Regions from separate parts of the Homo sapiens genome. Here region 2 is linked to region 1. The links come from fine-mapping of genetic effects on plasma protein levels. A gene starts in region 1. The other region holds a variant in brackets. All regions are shown on one strand. Distances are from middle to middle.

Region 1 (3,015 bases):
TCACAAGGAAGTGGGTCAAAGTGCAGCCTGATTAGTGCTTAATTATAACTAAGTTTCTGTCCAGAATTCTTTTTTTTTGAGACAGAGTTTTGCTCTTGTTGATCAGGCGGAAGTGCAATGGTGAAAACTTGGCTCACTGCAACCTCCGCCCTCTGGGTTCAAGCGATTCTCTTGCTTCAGCCTCTCGAGTAGCTGGGATTACAGGCATGTAATCCCACCACCAAGCCCAGCTAATTTTGTATATTTAGTAGAGACAGGGTTTCTCCATGTTGGTCAGGCTAGTCTAGAACTCTTGACGTCAGATGATCCACGTGCCTCGGCCTCCCAAAGTGCTGGGATTACAGGCGAGAGCCACCGTGCCCGGCGCAGAATTCTTTTTTTTAGAGATGAGGTATTGCCATCTTGCCCAGACTTGTCTCGAACTCCTGGGCTCAAACAATCCACCCACCTCGGCCTCCCAAAGTGCTGAGATTACTGACATAAGCCACCATGCCTGGCCCCCAGAATTATGAATCCTGTGAGGATGGCTTCAAGGTGAGCGCTGAGCCAGACAAAAGGATGGGGTTTGGGAGCACCCTGCTTAGACTGGAAAGATAATGTTGGAGAAGACTTCCTGGAAGAGGGGCTTTTTGCGTAGAGTTTTGAAGAATGAGTAGGAGTTCTCCAGAGGAGGATGAGTAACTGCAATAACACCCAGTTTATCAAGTGCCTCCTATGTGTCTGGCCCTGTGCTTTACCCCTCATTTGACCACCTCTCCAGTGAGAGTCTCAGTCCTTTTTTTCCTGGTGAGGAAACAGGCATGGCAGAGAGGCATGACACATCAAGGTTGCCCTTCCTGGCTCCATCTAGCCCGTTCTCCTCTGCTTCCTTTGTTTTTCACCATCTTTAGCCTTTGACCCCAACCAAAAAGAGAAGAGAGGAAATCCCATGGGCATAGACAGCCACCTCTTAAACTCTTGTCTGGAATTTTTCACATAGTAACAATGTCTTTTTTTCCTCCAAAAAGACTCCCAGGCTGGAATGGTGTCCTCATATCGAGGAAGAGGATACTGAGGCCCAGAAATGTGCCCTAGCTTTACTAGGAGCGCCCCCACCTAAAGATCCTCCCCCTAAATACACCCCCAGACCCCGCCCAGCTGTGGTCATTGGAGTGTTTACTCTGCAGGCAGGGGGAGGAGGGCGGGACTGAGCAGGCGGAGACGGACAAAGTCCGGGGACTATAAAGGCCGGTCCGGCAGCATCTGGTCAGTCCCAGCTCAGAGCCGCAACCTGCACAGCCATGCCCGGGCAAGAACTCAGGACGGTGAATGGCTCTCAGATGCTCCTGGTGTTGCTGGTGCTCTCGTGGCTGCCGCATGGGGGCGCCCTGTCTCTGGCCGAGGCGAGCCGCGCAAGTTTCCCGGGACCCTCAGAGTTGCACTCCGAAGACTCCAGATTCCGAGAGTTGCGGAAACGCTACGAGGACCTGCTAACCAGGCTGCGGGCCAACCAGAGCTGGGAAGATTCGAACACCGACCTCGTCCCGGCCCCTGCAGTCCGGATACTCACGCCAGAAGGTAAGTGAAATCTTAGAGATCCCCTCCCACCCCCCAAGCAGCCCCCATATCTAATCAGGGATTCCTCATCTTGAAAAGCCCAGACCTACCTTTGAGCCTCAGTTGCCCCATCTGTGCCCTGGGTAGGAATATCCTGGATCCCCTTGGGTCTGATGGGGTAGCCGATGCCTGATTTGCACCCACAACGTGGGAGGTTATAACCTGTCCCCAAGTTGCAAATGGGGAAACTGAGGTACAGGGATGCCAGGGACCCTCCTGAATGTGCACAGCACCTGGGAAACCCGGGGACGGGGTCGGGCGTGCGGTGTGGGCATGGTCCCTGACCTGGGCTGGGGCCAGGATCCAAGAGAAACAATGGGGGTGTGGTGCATGGATAGAAGTTTGTGATGGGCAGAGCCAGCTGGAGCTGGTTCTGAATCTGATGAAATCGCTTGTCAAGGCACTGCTAAAGTCACATGCAACGAGCGACTTGTTAGGGGAGGAGGAGAGTATTTTCCCCATCTCTGTGCCCTCCATGGAGGCTCCAGGGGTGCAGGGCACTGGATGAGGTCTGGGCTGTGGTGGGACCCAGGAGGGGGCAGGCAGAGGGGCACACTCTTAGCCCGCCCTAAACCCATCTGTGCCGTGTGACTCCGGCAAACCTCTCACCCTTGCTAAGCCTAGCAACTAGGTTAAGGCACCCTCAAACCCCAGTCTCCCCAGTCTCCCTAACACTTGTACCAGCCTGAGGGGCTGTGATTCCTAGAGGCTCAGTAGTCTGGAATGTGATGGGTTTGGCACTCTTCATTTCTCGGGATTACACCTGTAATCCCAGCACTTTAGGAGGCCAAGGTGGGAGCATCGCTTTAGGCCAGAACATTGCAGCCTGGGCAGTATAGCGAGAATCCATCTCTACCAAAAATGTTTAAAAAAAATTAGCCAGACATGATGGTGTGTGCCTGTAGTCTCAGTTATTCAGGAGGCTGAGGCGGGAGGAGCACTTGAATCCAGGAGATTGAGGCTGCACTGAGCCATGAGTGCCCCACTGCACTCCAGCCTGGGTAACAGCAAGACCATAATAAATAAATAAATAAGTGAAGCAAGTAAGTTTTTGACTGCCAGAAGAAAAGCAGAGCCATGGTTGGAATCTCAGGCTGCCTGAATATCAGATATACATTAATTCCTTCAAGTATTTACTAAGCACCTATTGTGTGCCAGGCACAGTGTCAACCAAGCTAAGATTCTAAGTAGGGAATATGAATGATACACAAGGAAATAAAATAGGGTGCTTCCTATTTTAGGCAGGCTGGAAGGAAGAGGAGGAGCCAGCCATACTGAGATTCAGGAGATTCAAGGGGAGAAATGCCCTTTTTTTTTTTTTTTTTTTTTTTTTTGAGAGGGAGTCTTCCTCTGTTGCCCAGGCTGGAGTGCAGTGGCACGATCTTGGCTCACTGCAACCTCCACCGCCCCGATTCAAGC
Region 2 (2,500 bases), 18 kb before region 1:
GCTTAAAATATCCTCATGTGGGCTAGGTGTGGTTACTCACACCTGTAATCCTAGCACTTTGGGAGGTTGAGGCAGGAGAATCCCTTGAGCCAGGAGTTCAAGACCAGCCTGGGCAACATAGCAAGAGATCCCATATCTACCAAAACATACAAGAATTAGCCAGATGTGGTGGTGCATGCCTGTGGTCCCAGATACTCAGGAGGCTGAGGCAGGAGGATCACCTATGCCTGGGAGGTTGAAGCCCCAGTGAGCCATGATCACACCACTGTAGTCCAGCCCGGGTGACACAGCAAGACTCTGTCTCAAAAAAAAAAAAAAAAAAAATCCTCATGCAAGAAGGGAAGGACCAAGTCCCATTCCCTCTTGCCTCATTTTCAGAGCCTGGGGTAGGGGCTACAGGTGGCATAGGAAGGGTCTGCAAGGTGGGTGGGACTTGGCAGGTGTTGGGAAGAGGAATAGGGGTGGCAAGTGTCAATGGTGAAAAGACAGGCTGAGGGGTGTGGTGGGAAGGCTGGGGGAGAAAGGTGAGAAGTGATTGGGGGGGCTTCCCTGATGAGTCCTCATGGAGGGTGCTGAGGCAGGGAACAGGGGTGCAGGGACAGTGATCAGGGCACCTGGTACCCTGACCAACTTGATGATGGCATCTCTTTTAAGATGCCCAAGTCTGCGCACTTTTATTCCTTTATTCGGCCCCTAGCACCCCCTCCCCACCCCAAAGAAGGTCAGTTGCATGCGTGTGGGGATGTAGCTCAAAAAAGAAATAAGATGGAGTGGAAAGGAAAGAAAGGAAGAAGCAGGAATTCAAGGTGGGTGGGCTGAGCTTGGGGCCACCTAGCCCACCTGCTCCAATCAAGGGCTGGAACAAACCTGAGGCCACTTGGAGAGGCAGGGCTGGGCAGGGACAGGGGGTGGGGGCCGAAATCACAGCTTCCCCATCAGAGCCAGATGTGTGAAGGAAATGTCCCAGATGGCAGTAGTTTCTCGGCAAGGAGGGGAATCCTGGAGATGGTTCATGTCTGTGATCCCAGTGCTTTGGGAGGCTGAGGTGGGAGGATTGCTTGAGCCCGGGAGTTCGAGACCAGCCCTGGGCAACATGGCGAGACCCCATCTCTACAGAAATTAAAAAAAAAAATTAGCCAGTTGTGGTGTCAAGCACCTGTAGTCCCAGCTACTTGGGAGGCTGAGTTGGGAGGCTTATCTGAGCCCAGGAGGTGAAGGCTGCAATGAGCCATGATTACACTACTGTACCCCAGCCTGGGCAACAGAGCAAGACCCTGCCTCAAAATTAAGAAAAAAAAAAGGGGGGCCAGGCGCAGTGGCTTATGCCTGTTATCCCAGCACTTTGGGAGGCCAAGGC[A/G]GACTGATCGCTTGAGGCCAGGAGTTTGCGACCAGCCTGGCCAACATAGCAAAACCCCATCTCTACTAAAAATACAAAAATTAGTCAAGAGTGGATGGTGCGTGCCTGTAATCCCAGCTACCTGGGAGGCTGAGACAGGAGAATTGCTTGAACCTGGGAGGCAGAGGTTGCAGTGGTGTGAGATCACGCCACTGCATTCCAGACTGGGCAACATAGCAAGACTCTGTCACAAAAAAAAAAAAAAAAAAGAATTCCCTGCTCTGCTTTTCTGCTCGTTGCTGGCATAGAAACATCTAGAACAGAAAGTATCCACTCTGGGGCAGATGGGAGAGCTGGAAAAGTAGATTCAAGATGCCTTTTAGTCTTGGAAGTTTCTTCCAGGAAGCAAGACCAGCTGGTATGTTTACACCTGCACTCCAGTGCCCTGGGGAGGTGACCAGGTGGAGGGGGATGGCTCATGGAAATCTGTCCCGCACAGCTGGCCCCCTTTTGGCTGCCACTGTCTAGACTGTTGGCCTTTGACCTCTCTGCCTCTTGTGGCGTCTGAACCTAGACGTCCCTTTTGGAGACAGCTGGACAAAGCCCTATTCTCCGCAGCCCCAGCCTCTATCCTGAGGCCTCTGGGAGCTGCGTGACGGCCAGCATGGGGTGCTGATCATGGTCAAGGAGGCAGGTCTTTGCCAGGTTGCCCCATGCAGCCACCCATCCTCAGCATCCTAACTTGAGGGGGCAGGAGAGGGCTTTGTTTTTATAATCCGGATTAAATTTCCCTTCCCTGGGCACAAGTGCCTCATGAGGGCCCGGGGCTGCTGGTTGGGAGGGAAAGCATCCCCGTTTTTGCAGTGAGGAGGCCGGCCGAGGGCTGGGGTTCCACTTAGACCCTTGGCAGAATGGCTGTTGAGGGGCAGGCGCTGCCCAGTGCCCACGTCTGGAAAGCTAATTCCCGGGTGGACGCTGAACATACCTGCTGAGAGACTCTGTCCCCTGGTTTCCAGGACAGTTGTCACAAGCTGAGTGGGGGGGGACTCCCAGGACTTGAGGGACCCAGTCCCACCCCAAACTGCTCCCCCTCCCCCAAATTCCCTTTCTCCTCCTGCTCTTTCTCCCCGCTGTGCCTCCCCCAGTTACCCACAGAAGTGCCTG

Which allele goes with the higher level. Alleles are on the strand shown, and positions count from the first base shown. The strength of an association depends on the size of the effect and on how common the allele is.
In carriers of allele A in region 2, the plasma level of the protein whose gene starts at base 1,249 in region 1 tends to be lower than with G alone (moderate association).

Evidence for each region. PIP is the posterior inclusion probability: the model's chance that the variant is causal. Protein levels are from antibody-based Olink assays in UK Biobank. Linkage for the fine-mapping came from a reference panel and not from the study's own genotypes, which makes the PIPs less certain.
Region 2: its variant is fine-mapped to the plasma level of the GDF15 protein (UK Biobank, PIP above 0.99).

The regions. Positions count from the first base shown.
Region 1 is chr19:18,384,910-18,387,924 of GRCh38, forward strand. It overlaps GDF15 (growth differentiation factor 15), which reads left to right and starts at 1,249. Exons shown (of 2, transcript NM_004864.4): 1 at 1,249-1,557. The coding sequence starts at 1,281. MIR3189 (microRNA 3189) reads left to right here and starts at 1,653; the gene lies at 1,653-1,725. RefSeq lists enhancers at 793-1,615, 1,204-1,373.
Region 2 is chr19:18,366,852-18,369,351 of GRCh38, forward strand. PGPEP1 (pyroglutamyl-peptidase I) reads left to right here. Exons shown (of 5, transcript NM_017712.4): 5 at 1-2,500. Among named protein-coding and RNA genes, the nearest start is that of GDF15, 18 kb to the right of the region's middle. The variant A/G (reference allele first, on the strand shown) is at 1,358.